Homo sapiens: one gene and its partners. The protein of the gene in region 3 interacts with the protein of the main gene of each other region in a pairwise test. Each region holds a gene or a part of one and is shown on either strand. Other genes may lie near its edges.

The links. Proteins that work in one complex are often made in the same cells at the same time.
Region 1: the proteins of RBPMS (region 3) and BANP interact in binary tests that used the Homo sapiens proteins (3 or more experiments, as listed by UniProt).
Region 2: the proteins of RBPMS (region 3) and MYOZ2 interact in binary tests that used the Homo sapiens proteins (3 or more experiments, as listed by UniProt).
Region 4: the proteins of RBPMS (region 3) and VGLL3 interact in binary tests that used the Homo sapiens proteins (3 or more experiments, as listed by UniProt).

Annotation. Positions count from the first base shown.
Region 1 is NC_000016.10:88,030,259-88,035,488, forward strand, and holds part of BANP (protein BANP), read left to right. Parts: intron 1-2,850; coding exon 2,851-2,987; intron 2,988-5,064; coding exon 5,065-5,136; intron 5,137-5,230. UniProt on the Homo sapiens protein: Controls V(D)J recombination during T-cell development by repressing T-cell receptor (TCR) beta enhancer function. Binds to scaffold/matrix attachment region beta (S/MARbeta), an ATC-rich DNA sequence located upstream of the TCR beta enhancer.
Region 2 is NC_000004.12:119,141,157-119,146,386, forward strand, and holds part of MYOZ2 (myozenin-2), read left to right. Parts: intron 1-5,094; exon of another isoform or gene 5,095-5,230.
Region 3 is NC_000008.11:30,540,524-30,545,753, forward strand, and holds part of RBPMS (RNA-binding protein with multiple splicing), read left to right. Parts: intron 1-3,970; coding exon 3,971-4,101; coding exon of another isoform or gene 4,102-4,248; exon of another isoform or gene 4,249-4,640; coding exon of another isoform or gene 4,641-4,652; exon of another isoform or gene 4,653-5,105; intron 5,106-5,137; exon of another isoform or gene 5,138-5,230.
Region 4 is NC_000003.12:86,973,595-86,978,824, reverse strand, and holds part of VGLL3 (transcription cofactor vestigial-like protein 3), read left to right. Parts: intron 1-22; coding exon 23-299; intron 300-5,230. UniProt on the Homo sapiens protein: May act as a specific coactivator for the mammalian TEFs.

The sequences.
Region 1 (5,230 bases), on a different chromosome or scaffold from region 3:
GGAAGGGACCCTGTCTGGAATTAACTGACCAGGACATTGAAATCTATTAAAATTACATTCAAGAATTTAAAGGAAAAAAGGAACATAGCAAGGAGAGAAATAGAAGACATAAAAAAGAACCGTATGGAACTCCTAGACTCGAAGAGTGAGGAGAGTTGTTGCCAGGCTTGCCTTCCATGTGTTTCGGGTACGTGCATTTGGTAAGGTTAGCGGTCTGCTTCATCCAATGGGGAATGAAAACCCAAGTTAAATGACTTGCCAGGACCTTAGTGAGCAAGAAGCTGCTGTTATATAACCTGACGACTGCCAGATATGTTGGCCTGCGTCATTAGGATACCAGAATCTTGAAAGAGTACATTTAATGAGCTGAAATGTCACAGCTGGAAATGTAGACTCAGAGCATTTGCACAGGAGTAGACGGTGGTGCAACAGCGTGTGAAGCCGAGTGTTTTGCTGGCTGCGCTGGTAGGCAGGAGCTTCCTCGGAGCCCTTGTGGTTGCAAGGTGCACTCTGGAGCACACCCATTCTTTGCTTGTCTGCCCTGTGGCCCCAGTGGAGTGTTTTGGAGCTGCTGGGAGAAGCTGTCCAGGGACAGACTGTCATGGTGGCAGTGGGCTGGAAACCGTTGTCTTTGGGGAAACGGTTAGAAATGGAGATTTCACAAGGTTTGATAATGCTTAGATGCCTGGAGAAGTAGCGCATAAGTAAAGAATTAGGCTGGTTTTGTAGGTGCTAAGAGGGTCAGTGGAGGAACAGCAGCTCCGCGGAGGTGGGCTTCAGCCCAGCTGGGATTTTGTCATTTTCTTCCTGGGGTGCACAAGGCTTGCTCGAGGACCTGTGGTGGTGAGTGCTCCGTAACTGCTCAGGCAGACAGGAAGCCGCCGTGGAGCACGCAGCACTGCCTGGCGGTGGTTGCTTTGGGACATGACCCATCACTGGAGGTGCTCAGGTGGAGTCAGGGTCTTTGGCTGGAGCCGAGCTCTCCACATGCAGCATGCAGGTGGGCTTGTTGAATCTCCTTTGAATCTCATGAATTTCAGATTCTGATTTAGTGTAGCTAGGCAATTTCTAGCATATTGCAAGTATCAACATTCTGTTAATGTGACTGGGCACAGTGGCTTACACCTATAATCCCAGCATTTTGGGAGGCTGAGGCAGGCGGATCATTTGAGGTCAGGAGTTCAAAACCAGCCTGGCCAACCTGGTGAAATCCCTTCTCTACAAAAAAATACAAAAAAAAATTAGCCCAGCATGATGGTGGGTGCCTGTAATCCCAGCTACTTGGAAGGCTGAGGCAGGAGAATCGCTTGAACTTGGGAGGCGGAAGTTGCAGTGAGCCAAGGTCATACCACTACACTCCAGCCTGGGTGACAGAGCAAGACTCTCTCTCAAAAAAAAAAAAAAAGAAACCCAACATTTTATTGTTACTTTAAAAAATGTATTCAGTGGAATCTAGGTACTATGGCAATTTAATACCTACCATTAGCTATTGGTAAAAAATACATGGAAAGCTTTTCTCTCCCCTCCCCCGCTCTTGCCCTCCCCTCTCTTGCCCCTCCCCGTCCCTTCCCCCGCTCGCTCTGTTGCCTGGAGCTGAGTGCCATGGTGCCATCTCAGCTCACTGTAACCACCTACTCCCAGGTTCAAGTGGTTCTCCTACTTCAGCCTCCCAAGTAGTTGGGACTACAGACGCGTGCCACCACACCTGGCTAATTTTTGTATTTTTAGTAGAGACGGGGTTCACCATGTTGGTCAGGCTGGTCTCGAACTCCTGACCTGAAGTGATCTTGCCCGCCTTGGCCTCCCAAAGTGCTGGGATTACAGGCGTGAGCCACCGCGCCTGGCCCGCTTCTCTTTAATAATCAATAATTTTATGTCTTTCATTTTTCTCCTTTCATTCATATCAACATTCTACTTCTCTCACAGAATTTCATCTTACTGCTTCCCTCCCCTGTACCCCCGAGATGGAGTCTCGCTCTGTTGCCCAGGCTGGAGTGTAGTGGTGCCATTTCGACTCATTACAACCTCCGCCTCCCAGGTTCAAGTGATTCTCCTGCCTCAGCCTCCTGAGTGCCTGGGATTACAGACCCCCACCACCACGCCTGTCTAATTTTTGTATTTTTAGTAGAGATGGGGTTTCACCATGTTGGCCAGGCTGGTCTTGAACTCGTGACCTCAGGTGATCTACCTGCCTTGGCCTCACAGAGTGCTGGGATTACAGGTGTGAGCCACCGTGTCCGGACTACATTTTTATGCTTAAAAGCTTTTTAAAATTAGTCATTATAATTCTCTGCAACAAAACTACGTGTATACATTGAAAATTAAAAAGTTTTTCTGCGCTCTTAATATTCTGAGAGTTTAAGAAAATTATGATTGAGACATCATTACAGTGAAAATTAATACACAGTACATCAAAGCAAATGTATCTCATTTTGATTAAACACAGCAAGTAAAATTTGTTGGAAATGTATCTTTAAGTGTGCGGATGAGACTTTTGCTCTATTAGTTTAATTACCCATGGACAAATATTGCCAGCCTGAAACAGCTTTTAATGTCCACTTTAAGAACTTCATTCATTTAAATAAGTTGGGGACTAGAAGGGGTTTTGTCATAGCAGCATCACGCCACTCTCAGGCCCTTTTGCATTCCATGTCGGAAGCCTCAGTTCCTAAGACTCACTGGTAGTGATCTCTGCAGAAGAGTGGAGATGCAGTGAGTCGAGGAAAAATGAAGCATTTCCTCTTCTCTGCTGTGGGAGTCGACAGTGGGGGACGGGGGTGCACACATGCCACACCAGGCAATGCCTAAGAAACTTCTCGTTCACCCCGTTCACACCTGTTGCCCCCACAGAGCCGATGATGAGCACCCCACCTCCTGCCAGCGAGCTCCCGCAGCCACAGCCGCAGCCGCAGGCCCTGCACTACGCGCTGGCCAACGCACAGCAGGTGCAGATCCACCAGATCGGAGAAGACGGACAGGTGCAAGTAGTACGTACCCTCTCCACCTCACACCTTGGGAAAGGGGGCTGCGGGGTGGGCCACGGCAGGGCCATGGCGGCTTCCACCGGTTCCGCTGTGTTTTGGGAGCACAGTGATAGCTTGGGAGGAGGCACAAGGTCCCCATTTAAAGTAGAGGTCATCGTGGCCATGAGCTCTTAACATTTCACAGGTGGGGGCGGCTGCTGCAGAGCCTAGGGATTGAAGCACATGGTGGGGTGGGGCATTCAGTCAGCTCACCTCAGTCCTGCCAGCAGGCAGGCGGGCAGTCAGCTCCAAGGGTCAGGCCGTGCGGTGGTCCCTGCCCCAGCTCGTGCTCCTGGGAAACATCGGAAATATTTCTCAGTTCAGAAGTGCAGGCGCTCTCTTACTGAGGGAAAGAGTAATTTCCTTCTAGGATCAGTGGCAAAAGCTTGAGGTCATTGTTCCCATGCAGCGTGTCCCTTGGAGTTACTCAGCACACCCAGGTTGGGCGGGCACTGTCCCAGCAGCAAGTCAATGTCCTGCCTTGCCCGTGCGGAGTTCTCTATTGGGGTTTTGTGACCCAAGCTGTGGTCAGCCTGATGCGCCTAGGGGCTTGCTCCCGGGTGAAGTCCCTCTACAAACACCTCCTGGATTCTGTGGCATGAGAGTAGGGCGTGGCTGAGAAGGAAGGAAGACTTTTCTGGAAGCTTTGCTGAGTGACTAGAAATTTTACATGCACCACTAGACCTCGCCTATGTTTTTAGTGGCACCAGCCCCCTTGGGCCCTCTGAAGACAGGTCATCGTGTGCCTCCGTGTCACCAGGGCTTTCTCCTGGAAACATGGTCCTCCACTATTGAGAGTGGGGCGTGGCTCTCATCTCAGTGTGGCTTCAGCATGCTGTCTGGAAGAGGGAAGGCTTCCGGAAAATTCTGGGGCTTTTAGAGGGGGCGTTACCCTTCCTCTTCCAAAGGAGATGAGACAGTTATGAATAGTGAATCTTATTTAATAAGCTTATTAATTTGTTTGACATTCACAACGGCAGTTCCTCTCATCTTGTTAGTAAGAAGTTCTTTGAAAGCGTTCCAGAGTAGATAACTTTGTCATAAGGCTTACATAGAACATTCTACAGGAGTTTATTTTAAGATCCATTTCGACTAAGAGAGAATTTCAAATAAGATAAGGAGTATTCGTTTCATTTACAGGTTTATAGGAATTATTTGTCTGCCCATATGTATAAACAGTGGATTCTTTGATTTTTTTTGAATCACATTTATTAGTGTTTACTGAAACTGTCTAAATAGTCATATGAGTGTTTCTTTGATTTGAAAAACGTTGCCTGCCCTGTTGTGAGTGTAGGCACGCCAACAGCTCCCCTGCTTCAGCCACACACTGCGTAGCCTCCCAGTATCCCCAGAGAGCTGAACGTATCATTTGAAAAGAGGTGTCATTGTGATTTTCTATTTCCCCTCTTTTCTGTGTGTCATGCACATTTTAAAATTTACTTGTTTAGTAACATTTAAAGATGTAAATATCTTTCCTGGGACCTATTGCTCCTTTGTGAAGTGCTGGAAAATGTTCTGTGTTACACAGCAGCCCCCCCTTACCCATGCTTCCACTTTCCCAGGCTTTAATTACCCATAGTCAACTGTGATCTGAAAATATTAGATGAGAAACTCCAGAAATAAACAATTTGTAAGTTTCAGATTACATACTCTTCTGAGTAGTAGCATGATGAAGTCTGGTCGTCCTGCTCTGTCCAGCCCGGGACGTGAGTCGTTCCTTTGTCCAGCATGTCCAAGCTGTGTGGCACATATGGGCGGGAAAAAGCATAGCATATATGGGGTTCAGCACCATCCACAGTTTCTGGCGTCCACGTGGTGGGGGTAGGGGGTGCTTCTTGAAACCCTCATGGATGAGGGGGACTACTGTGAACCAAAAGCTTAATTTAAAGAAGTGACCACAGACTATATTGCACTATTCAGGATTTAGTTATCTTTTTGAATTGTAAACAGATAATCAAGAACAAACATTCCGGAAGATGTTTCTTGTTTCCTTTGCTTTTGATTTTCTTCTGATGCTTCTTGGTGTCTTTTCTTGCTGCGGATCCCACAGGGACACCTCCACATCGCCCAGGTGCCGCAGGGGGAGCAAGTCCAGATCACGCAGGACAGCGAGGTGAGTCAGCTCTCGCTGCAGCACTGTCCCTGCAGGCACCGTGCCCACATGCTCCCGACCTTCATCGGTGTCACAGTGCGAGGGCAGCAGGGAG
Region 2 (5,230 bases), on a different chromosome or scaffold from region 3:
TAATCAATAAGCCCACCCTAAAGCAAATAAGCTTCAGCTAGCTACCCTCTAGTAATTGCAGTTGCCAATCATGGTAGAACAGTTTCAAAAGGTCTTTTGTCGTACTACAATTATTTGTAAGTGAGTGTCTTTGCAAACTATGGATTAGATTAACTCATCTAACTGAAGTTCTCAGTATAAATGACACCAATAAGAAAGTACACCTAACCATATTATTTTCTTTCTTTCTTTCTTTCTTTTTTTTGAGATGGAGTCTTGCTCTGTTGCCCAGGCTGGAGTGCAGTGGTGCAATCTCCGCTCACTGCAACCTCCACTTCCTGAGTTCAAGTGATTCTCCTGCCTCAGCCTCCCGAGTAGCTGGAATTACAGGTGCCTGCCACTACGCTTGGCTAATTTTTGTATTTTTTTAGTAGAGACATTTTGCCATGTTGGCAGGGCTGATCTCAAACTCCTGACCTCAGGTGATCCACCTGCCTCAGCCTCCCAAAGTGCTGGGATTACAGGCATGAACCACCATGCCCGGCCTTATTTTTAATAGATGATCTAATGCCACAAAGACAACCTTCTAAGCCATGAAGGCAAGGATATGTATTCTAAATAAAACATATCATTTATCAAGCATCAAGATTAAACACACCGTTAAGAACCTGTGCAAGGGTTTGCAGCGAAGGGCAGGCAACAGCTGAACTTAGAATCTGTGTGCTCAGCTGACAGCGTTCTTGACTCTGAAAGTTTAAGTAATGAGAGTGATCATGCATTAGATTCCTTAACTCACAAATGGTTCTGAAACCCTTGCTCCAGTGACATCATAAATTTAACTATTAGAAGGGAAGGGAAGGGAAGAAAACCTTGGAAAATTTTGTTTGTGTGTTTTATTTGTTTATGCAATACATCCCTGACACTGATGGATGTGCCCATTAGTATGCTATTATATATTTAACAATTGCTTCTTGAATGGGGCAGCAGTAGGGATGTTTTGATTTGTAGAATTTGCAAATTTCTGTGGTATAAATGCTTCCACCATGGCCAAATTCAAGCTACCACCATGGAAGCACTAAATGCAGAGCTGGAAACAGATATGCAGTAGTAGAACATTACATATTTTCCCTATACAGTTACAATGGATATAAATAACCTCAAGAGCGTAACGTCTCTTCTATCTTTTATAATCTAAATTGAACTTGCTATTTTGAATCCAGAATCAAAAAGTTGAAATATCGCATCCCCATCACATTGTCTAGTATGTTGAGGGATATTCATAGACACACTAAAAAATAAACTTGCTCATCCTTCCATGGTCCAAACACATAGTGACAGAGACTCCAAACACTTGCAAATAAGCAAGGGTGAATATTCCCTGTAGAACTCAGCAAAGCTGACGAGCAACTCCCGGGAAATTGTTGCAAAATACCCTCATGTACTCTGCTCTGTTTTTCTTATGCCTTTTCCATAGGCTATTTCTACCATTCCTGGGGACTGTGAAGTGCAGCATTTTGCTTTGTTTTGTTTGGGGATACTAGAGAGCCAGACAAAGCTGTTCTGCATTGCATTAGGAAGAAGTATAAAAATTTTTAAACATTTTAATAATAGACTTTATTTTTTAGAGTTTTAGACTTGCAGGAAAGTGAGGGAGAAAGTACGATGAGTTGCTGTATAAACTTCTTCCCCGCTGCTGTTTCCTCTATTATTAGCATCTTGCATCAGTGTGTATTTGTAACAACTGATGAACCAATATTGATAACTGTTGCACTCCATTTTGTGCTGCTATAACAGAATACCTGAGATTGGGTAGTTTATAATGAAAGACATTGTTCATGGTTCCAGAGGCCAGGGAGTCCAATATTAAGGTGCCAGCATCAAGGGAGGGTCTTTTTGCTGAGTCATCAAATGGCAGAGGACAAGAGAGAAAAGGGGGCTGAATTCATCTTTTTATAAGGTCACAAATCCCACCCATGAGGGTGGGGTACTCATGGCTTAATTACCTTTTAAAGGTCTGAGCTCTTAATACTGTTACAATGGCAATTAAATTTCTTTCTTTCTTTTTTCTTTTTTTTTTTGAGATGGAGTCTTGCTCTGTCACCTAGGCTGGAGTGCAGTGGCCTGATCTCAGCTCACTGCAACCTCTGCCTCCCAGGTTCAAGCGATTCTCCTGCTTCAGCCTCCCGAGTAGCTGGGATTACAGGTGCACACCACCACACATGGCTAATTTTTGTATTTTTAGTAGAGATGCGGTTTCACCACATTGGCCAGGCTGGTCTCGAACTCCTGACCTCATGATCTGCCCACCTGGGCCTCCCAAAGTGCTGGGATTATAGGCGTGAGCCACCGCGCCTGGCCTGGCAATTAAATTTCAACATGAGCTTTGGAAAGGACAGACATTCAAACCACAGCATTAACTAAAGTCCATAGTTTACATTAGGATTCACTCTTTGTGTTACGCAGTTCTACGGGCTTTCACAAATGCAGTGTCGTATATCTGCCATTACAGCATCACACAGGATAGTTTCTCGGCCCTAAAAATCCTCTATGCTCCACTTATTCATCCGTCTCTCTCTACCTCCTTCCAAGTCCCTGGCAACTACTGATCTTTATGCTACCTTCTAGTTTTGTCTTTTCCAGAATGTCAAATAGCTGGAATCATACAGTAAGTAGATTTTTCCGACTGGCTTCTTTTACTTAGAAATATACATTTAAGAATCCTTCATGTCTTTTCATGGCTTGATAGCTCTTAATTAAATTTTTTATTTTGAGTTTTTTTTAGATAATCATAGTTTCACCTGCAGTTGTTAAGATGTAATACAGGGCTATCCCATGTGCCCTTTCCCAGTGGTAACATCGAGCAAAACTATAGTACAATATCACAACCAGAATATTGACATTGATACAGTCAAGAGACATAATATTTCCATTCCCATAAGGGTCCCTCATGTTGCCCTTTCATAGCCATACCCACTTCTCTCTAGGCCCCATCTCTCCTTAAACCCTGACCAATCACTATTCTGCTCTCCATTTCTATAATTTTTCTGTAATTTCAAGAATGATATACAAATGGAATCATACAGCATATAACCTTTTGGGAATGGCTTTTTCATTCAGTGTAATTCTCTAGAGATTCACCCGGGTCTTGTTCTCAATGATTTGTTCCCTTTTGTTGCTGAATACCATGCTGTGGATGGACCACAGTGTTTTTAATAGTTTACCCATTGAAGTACATCTGGGTTGTTTTCAGTTTTTGATTATCAAGAAGGAAGATGCTATGAACATTTGGGTATATGATTTTTCAAGAACACAAGTTTTCATTTCACTGGGATAAATGTCCAGTATTGCAGGGTAGTTCTGCATTCAGTTTATAACAGAATTTATTAAATTGTTTTCTAGAGTGTCTGTACCATTTTATATCTTCAGCAGCTATGTATGAGTGACCCAGTTTCTCCACATCCTCACCAGCAAATGGTGCTGTCATCATTTTTCATTAAAGACATTCTGATAGGTGTATAGTGATATATCATTGTGATTTTAATTTGCATTTCCCTAGTGACTGATGATGTTTACCATCTTTTCAAATGCTTATTTGCCATCTGTATATCTTCTTCAGTTGAAATGCCTCTTCATGTTTTGGCCCACATTCTAATTGGATTGTTTGCTTTTTTAATAGTGAATTTTGATAGTTCTGTATTTATGCTAGACTGTTTTCAAGGTTACATGTTTTGAAAATATTGTTTCCCATTCTGTAGCTTGTCTTTTCATCCTCTTAGTAGGGTCTGTCTCAGAGCAAAAGTTTTTCATTTTGATGATGTCCAGTTTATCAATTATTCCTTTTATGGATCATGATTTTGGTGTTGTTTAGCAACTCTTTGCCTAGCCCTAGGTCCCAAAGATATACTAAAGTGATTTTTCTTCCTTAGCCCATTAACATGGTGAATCTTTGCCTAGCTCTAGATCTCAAAGATACAGTAATGTGATTTTTCTTCCTTAGCCTATTAACATAGTGAATTACATTGATTGATCTTTGAATAGTGAAACAGCCTTGCCTCCCTGGATTAAACCCCACTGGCTCATGATATAAAATTCTTTTCATATATTGCTTAATTATATTTGCTAATAATATGTTAAGGATTTTGCTTCTACGTGTATGTGGGATATGGGATATTGTTTTGTAATTTTTTCTGTGTGCGTGTGTGGTTTTTTTTTTTTTTTTTTTTTTTTGAGATAGGGTCTCACTCTGTCTCCCATGTTGGAGTGCAGTGGCCTGATCTCAGCTCACTGCAACCACCTCCCAGGCTCAACTGATCCTTCCACCTCAGCCTCCCAAGTAGCTGGGACCAACCCACCACCATGCCCAGCTAAAACTGTGTGTGTGTGTGTGTGTGTGTGTGTGTGTGTGTGTGTGTGTTTTTGGTAGAGACTTGGTTTCACCATGTTGCTCAGGCTGGTCTTGAACTCTTGAGCTCAAGCAATACACCTGCCTCAGGCCTCCCAAACTGCTAGGATTACAGGCGTGAGCCATCCCACCTGGCCTGTCTGTGTGTGTTGTCTTTCTCTGGCTTTGGTATCAGTGTATTATTACCTTAATGAAATGAACTAGGAAGAACTCTCTTCTATTTTGGGGCAGAGATTATGTGACATTGGTGATAATTGTTCTTTAAATATTTGGTAGAATTCTCCAGTGAAATGATTTAAGTCTGAAGCCTTTTGTGGGGTGAGGAGATTTTTAGACTATAAATTGAATTGCCTGAATAGTTATATAATTAATCAAGTACTCATTTCATGTTGGGTGAACTGAGGTAATTTGTGCTTTTTGAGGAACTGGTCAATTTTTTCTAAGTGCTCAAGTTTATGTGAATTTATATGTAGAATTGTTTGTAGTATTAATATTCTTATTATCTGTTTGCTATCTGCAGTGTCTGTAATGATATCTCTGATTTTGTTCCTAATATTGTTAATTTGTGTCTTCTCTATATTTTCCATGTTAATCTTACTAGAGATTTATCAATTTTACTGATCTTTTAAAAACCAGCTCCATACTTCATTGATTTTCTCTGTTGTTTTTCTGTTTTTTATTTCACTGGTTTCTGCTCTTATCTTTACTATTTCTTTCGTTCTGCTTGCTTTGAGTTTATTTTGTTCATCTTTTTTTTTTAGATTTTTTGGGGTAGACACTTATTTATTGATTTGATACTTTTTTCTTTTTTAACTGTGCATTTAGTGCTATAAATATTCCTCTCAGCAC
Region 3 (5,230 bases):
CGAGTGAACCTCCCACCTTAGCCTCCCGAGTAGTTGGAACTAAAGGCATGCACCGCCAGGCCTGGCTAATATATATTTTTTTAAGATACGGGGTCTCGCTATGTTGCCCAAGCTTGTCTCAAATCCTGGGTCCAAGCGATCTTCTTCCTCCTGCTTCTGCCTCCCAGAGCACTGGGATCACAGGTGTGAGCCACTGCACGCAGCCAAACTGTGTATTTTTAAAGTTGTCTTGACTTGAGTGTGGAAGCCGGGAGGGCTTTTAGGAGGCCTTTTCAGTAATCCAGTAGTGTTGGTGAAGATCAAACTGGATCATGGGATAGATTCACCAGGACCTTGATGAAAGAATGAATGAGAGGGAGGATGGGGTGACCACCAGGTCTGTGGCTTGGGCAGCTGAGTGGAAGGTAGCATCTTGCTGAAATCTGGAGCCAACGAGGACAGGTCATTGAGGGAGCATGTTTAGTTTTGAGTATGTCGAGCATGAAGTTGCTATGGAATATTTCCAAATAGATGTTTTCAGGAGGCAAAAAAGTTCTTAAACCTTGTGTTACCAACTAAACTCAGAGATACATGGCCATACTTAAGTCCATTAAAGATTCTCCTTGTTCTTCCATCTCTCAGTTGTTTCTAAGAGTCATTCATGTTTATCTCTCTTTCAATGTGACCGTAGACTGTAAGCTTCACCTTTCTGCATCTGTTTCCTCATCTAAAACGAAAAGGCAGAAGATGATCTTCCCAAGCTCTGTAGGCTTAAACCTTCATCAGACGCTCTGCAGTTCTTTCGTTTCAAAGGGATTACAGGGTGGAGTTGGAAGTTTCCAGTCCTTGTTTTTCAGAATCCAATTTGAGCTCTTCTGGTTGCATATTCTCATGCTAAGAAAAAAAGCCTATTCAGATGTATATTGTGAGCCCTCAACAACATTATCCTCAGAAGGTGCAAAAAAGAAAAGATGTAGCCAGATTGGTGCAATGGGAAAGGATTTGCCCTGCCTCTCAGGAGGGATGGATTAGGCCCAGACAAAAAAGCCCTGGCCTCTTGATCTGCCCTCTTTCTGCTTACTGGGGCCTGGCTCACTCTGGGTGGTCAAGAGCCTCTTTTGTCAAGAGGAATCTCACCCCCTCCCTAAACTCCAATTCATCCCAGTGGGCCTTGGGCAGCAATCTTTGTCTTCTTTTTTCAGCCTTCCATCCTGTAAAGTTTGAGCAGGATGGGCAGTGACTCAGGAAGGTGAAACCCATCAGGGCCTTGCCTGCTCCTTCAGTGGGGAGTCCTTGTGAAGGGCTTGTGCTGTGGAAAACCAGTCTCTCTAGCTTTTGTAATTTTCTCAAGCAACGAAAAAGCAAACAAACGCAAAAAGCTTATTCTGCTTTAATACCCATTTCCGTCAAAGGAGTGTATGTGTGTGTTAGGAGAGTGCTCAGGCTCATACTGGAAAGTTAGGTGTTGGTGAGGACTGCTTCAGGTGCGATCCTGACCTGGTCAGACCACGTATCTTTTGATGTTTATGGTAATTCCACATTCCTTCATGATGGGAGAAGGGAGACGGAGATGATAAGATGTATCAAGGGATTTATCAAGTGTAAGTTCACCTTTATCTCTTTTAGGCTTCTGCCTCACTAATACGTTACTACTACTCAGCAATTTTGAGTTTAGGGGATTTCAGACCAAATCCTCTTTTCTGCTGGGCTGGGTTTTGTGCAAATATCAATGGTGAATTGTCTCTAAGCATCAGTAAAGAACTAATGGGAAGTAATGCTTCAGGATAAAAACAGAGAAAAGTCTGGGAAACATAAATTCCAGCAGTCAGGCTGACACTGAAATCTGATTCCAGCTTATCTCTGTTGCTTATCTCTTTAGGATCAGATATCTTAAAGGACATACTCATTTCATTTTTAAAAGTTTCTAAAGGAAGGACCTACTGATCAGGTAACCACCTCTACCCACCCCACCCCAGTTAGCCAGGAAGATAAGGAAGGACCACTGACAGGCTGCAGGCCAAACACGTTCCCCCTGAGGGCTCTGCCATTTGGAATCAGTTGTATGTATCAGTTTTATGGTCTTCTGCTATCACAGTGGGAACAGACAAGCATGGGCCACAGTGTACTGAGGATTTAAAAGACTCAGAATGTCTTAAAATAGCCTGGTCGCTAAACAACAATAATAGTTTGGCATTCCTGAGAATGGTTGTTTGTTTAAAATTCAAGGCATTGGTTCTGGTAGCAGTTAGTTTCCACTAGCTGGGCTCCCACGTGAGTTACTCTGGAAATCACATGGTCTCATCACAACAGGAAGCACAGGGATCTATTAAGCCCCTCCCAGCCCCTCTGAGGGTGGTCCCTAAGCCTTGGGCTACAGGCACCTACACACCCTAGAACACAGTAGATGCTGTGGACCTGATCATTTTAAGGACTCTGGTGTTGTTGCTTTCACCCTGACTAATAATGATCAGTCCACTCTTAGGGGCTTATTTCTCCCACCTAGATGCACAGGCAGTCTGTCTTTCTATCACCAAGTCCTGAGGAGGTAGTTTTTACTGCCTTGTTGAGAGGAGAAGGGAGTCAGGAAGGCCAACCAGCAACAGTATGTTAAACCACATTGTTGGGGTCCCATCATATCTGAAAATGGGTACAAACTGCCCTCTGAACGTATCATCAGCAGTCAGCTCCTGACTCCCTACCATCCTGAGAGAAGCTCGTGCCATGCAAGCTGGCTGTGGGGAAGCCTCACACAGGTTCTGCTACTTTCTGGTTTCGCCATAGAGCAGTCCCACATCACACCGAGCAAAGCAGTTTTCTGTTGCTAGCCCCCTTTCTGTATTGAAGAGTTTCGGGGGATGGGAAGGATGCAGAGACACTGGGCCTGGAATGGCTCCTTAGATGGTAGGAAGGAATAAAGTGACTCTGTTGACCTTGCACTGTAGACTCAGGGAAAGTACTGAATGGCAGAGTTACTAATGACTTCTATCAAATCACCTTTTGCTGACTCCCGTGTTAGTCCTGGATAGCGTCCTTGGCACACTTGATTTCAGATTTTGACAGGTGATAAAAGCACATATTGAGATTGCTGCTTCACAGGGCCCAGATTCCTTGCTATTGACTGATGTTATTTTTGCCTTTCCTGAGAAGCTCCCTCATGTGTTTGCTGTTACTTTTAATGGATTGCTTCCTGATACATGGGAGGCCCAGGCACTTGCCCTTCAATCTGGCCAACTGCAGCCTGACCTGGGTGGAATTGGAGCTGCCTGAGGAACACTTAGACCAGGCACTTGGCAATATGACTCACTTTTTTCCCCTAAAAGTTAGTCTGTAAAGAGCAACTGGAAATGTTCCTGTTTACATCTTTGTGGAGTGTAATTTTAATCAGGATTCTCAAGGTTTTTCACTTCAATTCTCTGAATTTTTAAGATCTTAAATGCCCTGTGGTCACAGTATTTGGCCCTGTACTTCTGAGGGCTACGTGGAAAATGCTTGATGATCATTACTGACTTGTCAATAGTAATTATGCCAATAAACAGAAAAGTCTTCCAGTTCTGGTCTGTTGAGGCCCTGCCGTTAAGCCATGGTTTTCCCAAAGGCTCTGCAGTGGGTTCTCATGGGATGTCTTTCATTGGTTCTTTCTCTCCCTTTTCCTCAGAGGGTCGCATTTCCTGTTTTGTGCAGGAAATTCCCACTGTTTTGGGTTCCCCAGCTACAGTCGGAAAGACATCAGAGTGTTCAAGGCGGAGTCCAGGCCTGAGATCTCAGCAGGCCAGACAGGCAGCAGATGCTTGTTGCTTTTCTTGTGTTATATTTTTCGTTCCCTTACTTAGCATTTGTGGGACCAAAGCCAACAAACAACAGGTTGTTAAAAGAATGAGAGTAATTTGACTTCCGACAGTGATTGGGGCTCGGGGTTGTTGGGTGTTTTGTTTTCTGATTTGAAACTAGCTGTATGGTAACCACTAACTCTCGCCTTATTCTTTTCTTGCAGATGAGCTCACAGTGCCTGCACTTTACCCCAGTAGCCCTGAAGTGTGGGCCCCGTACCCTCTGTACCCAGCGGAGTTAGCGCCTGCTCTACCTCCTCCTGCTTTCACCTATCCCGCTTCACTGCATGCCCAGGTAATTGATACCCATCGGCCAGGACTTCACTCACTTCACCACCAGTCCTTTCAAACTTGGTTCCCGAGAGCACACCATACAACTAACACCTATCCAGCTAACAGATCCACCCTCAAGAGATTAATGATCCCCTCTAAATCAAGCTGACACTCCTTCAGGACTGACGAGGATCGTCTGACAGCAATGATATCACCCACTGCCTGATGTTTGCCCCAAATGACACCTCTCTCTTCCTTAATGATCTCACCTCATATCGCACATGAGAGACCGGGGCAGGTTTATCCACCTGGCTCCCAGCTAGCTAGAGGGCATCACCAGAGTGTATACGTGTGTGCCTTGTGTGGAAGGGCTGCAGAGGAAGGTGTGTGCTAGGAGAAGGGGATATGTGCGTCTGTGCGTGTTTCTGTGTGTTGAGAGTTTTCCACTCTCGTGTACGGTGAGAAGAATCTCTGACCAAAGGGAAAGCTTCCAGGGGGGAAGGCTGTACTTTCTTAAATATGTTACAGGAAAGATTAAGGGTTCCTTCTCTCCATTTTCAGGAAACCCTGTAGAAAAGGAGATACAAGATAGTGTCTAAGATGGAATTACAGGTCAAGGTAGAGATCTCTATTCTGACCAGCTTTCTTTCTTAGTTAAAAATAGCCTGATTTTTATAAACAAACTTCCTGTTTCTCCGCAAAGATTACTGTCTACATACTAACACTTCCTCTCCCCTTGGAGAAAATATTTCTCTTAGCTTCGCTTTTAGTGCAAGTGGTAGTAATCAGTGTAAAGATTCACCTCTGGAGATCACCACTCATTCTTTGGCCTGCAAAGATTGATGACCAGTAACAAATAGAAAGTACGTACGTAGGTTTCATTTGTCTTTCTGCATGTGTAATTCAGCCTTTAAATTTTAAATTTTTAAAAATTATTAGGCTGGACAGGCAGAGTTTTCGTTTGCCTGTTTTGCTCAGTGTTTGTTTACAAGGCTGGGTGAAATAAACAGCTTCCCAGAAAACCTCCTTCTGACTTAAAACTCTTTTATGTTGTACAGAATTCCCTGTCTTGATAAAGACCACCTAGAAGCAGCCCCCAGCGAGGGTTCTTGAAAGTCATGGGGTCGAGATTGTTGTTGGCTGAACATCTT
Region 4 (5,230 bases), on a different chromosome or scaffold from region 3:
TGTTTTGTTTATTCCATCCCAGAAGAAGTTAGCGGTATTCAGCAAGATGCAGGACTCTCTGGAAGTCACCCTTCCCAGCAAACAAGAGGAGGAGGATGAGGAGGAGGAGGAGGAGGAGAAAGACCAGCCTGCCGAGATGGAGTACCTTAACTCTCGCTGTGTCCTTTTCACTTATTTCCAGGGAGACATTGGGTCAGTAGTGGATGAACACTTCTCAAGAGCTTTGGGCCAAGCCATCACCCTCCATCCAGAATCTGCCATTTCAAAAAGCAAGATGGGGCTAACCCCCCTATGGCGAGGTAAGAATTCAAAAGCAGATGTTCTCCAGGGCACTGTCTTTGTTTCGCAACTGCCTGTACCAGGTTCCAGCTGGAGACTTGCCCCTGAGGATGGATATCCACTTGCTTTTTAATATTTAAGGACAGTGAGGAATTTCTTTCAGACAAACAGCTGGATCGGTTTTGTCACATGTGGAATGTAGGGTTGGAAAGGATGCAGTCACACCCCTTAAATTCCTCATGGAAAGTAGTGATACAACCGGCTTGAGTTTATAGTGGCTGCACTGAGCTGCGAAGTACCATTCCTAAAGCCCCAGTGGCCCAATTTGGATCTCTAAATAATAGGCGTGTCTAAATCAGCTTTTAAAAAATTAGCTCTTGCTCATTCCAATAGGTGCTATGTGGTGACATACCAGAGACCTGAGTCTGACCCAGGAATACAGACATTGAAAGCTGTCTGTGTTCTTTGAATAGGCTTCTTTATCCTGATTTGTTATTGTATTAACTCTTTATAGTATACACTCTAGGCATTTTGGCAGCATCCACATGGCTTAAACTAGTGTTTTTACCTTGATAAAGAAAGAGCAGCACATTGGACTCCTTTATTTCTCTCTGTATCGAGCTCACAGAGATGTGTTTGAAACTGATTTCTGACTCATAGAAAATTATTGGTGACATCTAAATCAGGGTAATTACAGGGTTAGATAAAAACATAATACGTCATTCCAATGACAGCTTCAGAGAAATTTGCTACAGTGGTGATTTCTTCCAAATTCACCTGGTTATAGGAATGATCTAGTAAAATGGTTCTCGAGGTGTGATTTTCCTGACCAGGAACATCAGTGCCACATGGGAGCTTGTTAGAAGTGCGAATTCTTGGGCTCCACCCCAGACCTGCAGAATCAGAAGCTCTGGGGTGGGGCAATCTGTGTTTTAACCAGCCCTCCCAGTGACTCCAGTGCAGAGTTTGATAATCATTGATCTAGTCCTGTTAAGGACAGTTTGCAGGACCCCCTTATCTCGAATCTATTGAACTAGAATCTTCATAGGAAGGTGTGGGAATCACACTTTAACAAGGGCTCTGGGTAATTCCTATCATGAGGAAAAGCTGGCTACCTGTGGGCAGGGCCAGGTGAGCAGTGAGCAGTGACTAGTGGTACCTTCTGGGCAGCACAGGAATGGTTCTGCTCTACTGTAGAAGTCCTGGCCACATGGAATTGCTGGGCCTGATCTTTTCTTACCTACTTGACCTTTCTTTTCTTCTCTCCCTCCCTCCCTTCTTACCCTCTCTCCTTCCTTCCCTCCCTGTTTGCCTCTTCTCCTCTCCTCTCCTTCTTTTTTTTCTTTGCTTCTTTACTTTTCTTTTTAGTAAATATAAACAACACTAAACAGTGACTATAAAGGGGAAGGTGGAATACAAATAAAATATCCAAGGCCTTGATGGAAATGAACTGAAAAACATACTAGTTATTTGATTAGTAAATAATATGGGCTTACTATGAGAACTGAGACTTAGTCCTTGGAAGCCTATGATGCTTATGTAATAGACTAATGTCCTATTTAACAGGACGTGATGAATAATTTTAATAATTTGTAGAGGAAGAAAATAGGAAAACATTAGTGAGTTAGATGGCTTTAATAAATAATTTGATATATCAATAATGAATCCTATTAAGATAATCAGTGCCAGGAGAGTAATAAATATAATGTCTACTTCTTTTAGCACATGGGCATATGCAACCTTGCTATCATTTAAACTGAAAAATCAGAATTAATGTCCCAAATTATTTCTTGGTGTGAGAGTGATTGTCTATAGAATCATATTCAAAATAATTTTTAGTGGGATGTTGTGAATGTGCAGAAACCCTACAACACATCAGCATTTTCTCTGTAATTTGCAAAACACATTACACAAGTTCCTTTAGCAGATGTTAAACTGTAGCATAGAAAGGGTTAATAAAGGCAATGTTTTCATAACTACTACTAAAGTTTTCTTGGAACTATCTTAAATTTGATCTTCAAATATGTCTCCTGTTTTATTCATTGACATATTCAGCAAACATTTATTAACCTCCTGCTATGTGTTAGGCAATGTGCTAAGTCCTGAGACAGCCCAAGGCTCTACCCTCATGGAGCTTTTAGGGTAGAAACAGGAAACAAACAATTGTTACAAAATATGTTATTTTACATAAGGTGATAACAAAAGCCCTGTGTGGCACAGTTATGTTTGAGCAGATAGCTGAAGGAAATAAGAATACTCATCATGTGGTTACCTAGGGGAAAGTAATTCTACACAGAAGGGACAGATAGTGCAAAGGCCCTGAAGATGGACTGAGCTTAGAATATTCAATGAGAAGCAAAGATGCTGGTGTGAGGTGAATGAAATGCAAAGTAATAGGTGGAGAACAGATGCTTTAGAACTTTTTTTTTTTGAGATGGAGTTTCGCTCTTGTCACCCAGGCTGGAGTGCAGTGGTGCGATCTCGGCTCACTGCAACCTCCGCCTCCCCAGTTCCAGCGATTCTCCTGCCTCAGCCTCCTGAGTAGCTGGGATTACAGGGACCCTCCACCATGCCCAGCTAATTTTTGTATTTTTTTGGTAGAGACGGGGTTTCACCATGTTGGCCAGGCTGGTCTTGAACTCCTGACCTCAGGTGATCTGCCCGCCTCGGCCTCCCAAAGTGCTCGGAGCCACACTTACAGATGTGAGCCACCGCGCCCCACTGTTTTAGAGCTTTTTACATCAGTTTATCAGCATATACCAGGAGCACACAGCATGCGCTTCAATTTTCATCTCCTATTATCCCACTAAGTCTACAAATACCATATCTTCTTATGGTGCCTCATTTTTTCTGATGCTCACAACAATGTGTTTCTATGTGGAAAATCTGAAATAGATATGCATTGAATGATTAAGTGACTGAATTAAATGAACCAATTTCATACCATGTATCCGGAATTAGAAAACAAGAGTCTTTAATAGAAAATTTCTTGGTAATAAGTTATATGAACTCTTTGGGTACAGTTTTTTTTAATTTATAAAATAAGGGGGTTAAATTAAATAATTGGTAAAAATATTTTCTTCTGTAAAGTTCTGTAATTTCAAAGGTATTATTTGCTTTTCTTAGATCTTTGTCATAATTGTCTTAAGTTGTGAATTAGACAGATTTAGATAAATATATAAAACTTGTGTAGGATTTATAGGAAAGCCACAAACGATAATTAAAAATATAGAAAATGTCTTAAAGAAGAGGTTCAATAAAATGAGACTCACATTTTTATTCTCATAAAATGAGAGAGTTGGTGACAATTTAATATTAATTGGCAAAGCTACACAGGATTGGAAAATACAGTCTTTGGAGTCCATTTGTTTTAGATTCATGTTCCAGCCTTTACCTTCTGGTTGCAATGTGATCTTGGATTACTAAATTGAAATCTCTTACATCAACTTCCTCAACTGTAATATGTGTTTATTGATACCCATCTCATAGAGTTATTGTAAAGATTTTTAAATAATGTATATGAATAATTTAGCATAGAGCTTGACTCAAGGTGCTAAATGAAAGCCAGATGCCTTTTCTCTCTTCCTTAAGTAAGTTTCCACTCATTTGACACATAGAAAACAAACCCTGAGCCTTTATCCAGGAACATTGTTTTCTGGAACTTTGTGTTTTTGGTACAAAACACACAGTCTTAGATAATAGTAGATACTAAAGGCTAATGATAATGTTAGTGGCCATGGCAATGATGCTTAGAAAGGAACTGCTGACCGAGTATTAAAGGGTCTAGTTTACAGCATAAAGTTATTACAGTGCCACAGAAGTGCTACCATGCTACAAACAAATTTAATAACTGAATCGTGTTTGACTAAGAATATATTTACACGGTAAATCTTTAGACAAAGAATAGTGTGTCAGCTAATAATGAAAGAATGGTTATACTTTGAATGTATATCTCCTTCATGAAGCTAGGTAAGTTTTTTTAGGTGTTTTTCAGCTGTAAGGCAAACAATGATAGGAAGTATATGTATTTTACTTGGCACAATGTCTTATCAGTTACCTCTAATCCTGCTATATATTCTAACAGGGTTGAAAGAATTTCATTTCTTTCCATTAAGAAAACCTAACTAGCTGGGCGTGGTGGCTCATGCCTGTAATCTCAGCACTTTGGGAGGCCGCGGCCGGGCAGTTCACCTGAGGTCAGGAGTTCGAGACCAGCCTAGGCAACATTGTGAAACCCCATCTCTACTAAAAACACAAAAAATTAGCCAGGCAAGGTGACAGCCACCTGTAATCTCAGCTACTTAGGAGACTGAGACAGGAGAATCGCTTGAACCCGGGAGGTGGAGGTTGCAGTGAGTCGAGATTATGCCATTGTACTCCAGCCTGTGTGACAGAGTGAGACTCTATCTAAAAAAAAAAAAAAATAACAAACCTAATGAATATGATTGGTCCCTTATCTCCATACAAATATATGTTTCTTGATACCCTTCTCCTAGAGTTATTATAAAGATTTTAAAAATAATCTATATGATTAATTTAGCACAGCGCTAAACATTGGTTTCAAATATGCCTATGCACTGATCTTTACAGAAATGAGTCTGTGTGTATCTGTAGAAAAGGGCAGGAGCTATGTCAAGCCATAGCAGAGTAAATCACTGACTTAAAACCATACAGAATGCTAATCTTACTGATATTGCAGTTGCAAAGAAAATCATCTGTTGGCTCATTGATGTACATAGGGTCTGCTTGGGCAATTCATTCTCATGGGAAAAAGCTCTCAAAATAAATACGAAACCTAAATAGTCAAATGGAGAAAGGAAAAGGAGGGCCTGTCTGATGAGCTGGCTGATACTGGAAATGAACAGAATGTCCATAGGACCAAGACATGGGGAAAAAAGTGAGGCGTGACTAATCTCACCCTGCTGCCTCCAAGGAGTATCGGCCTCTGACA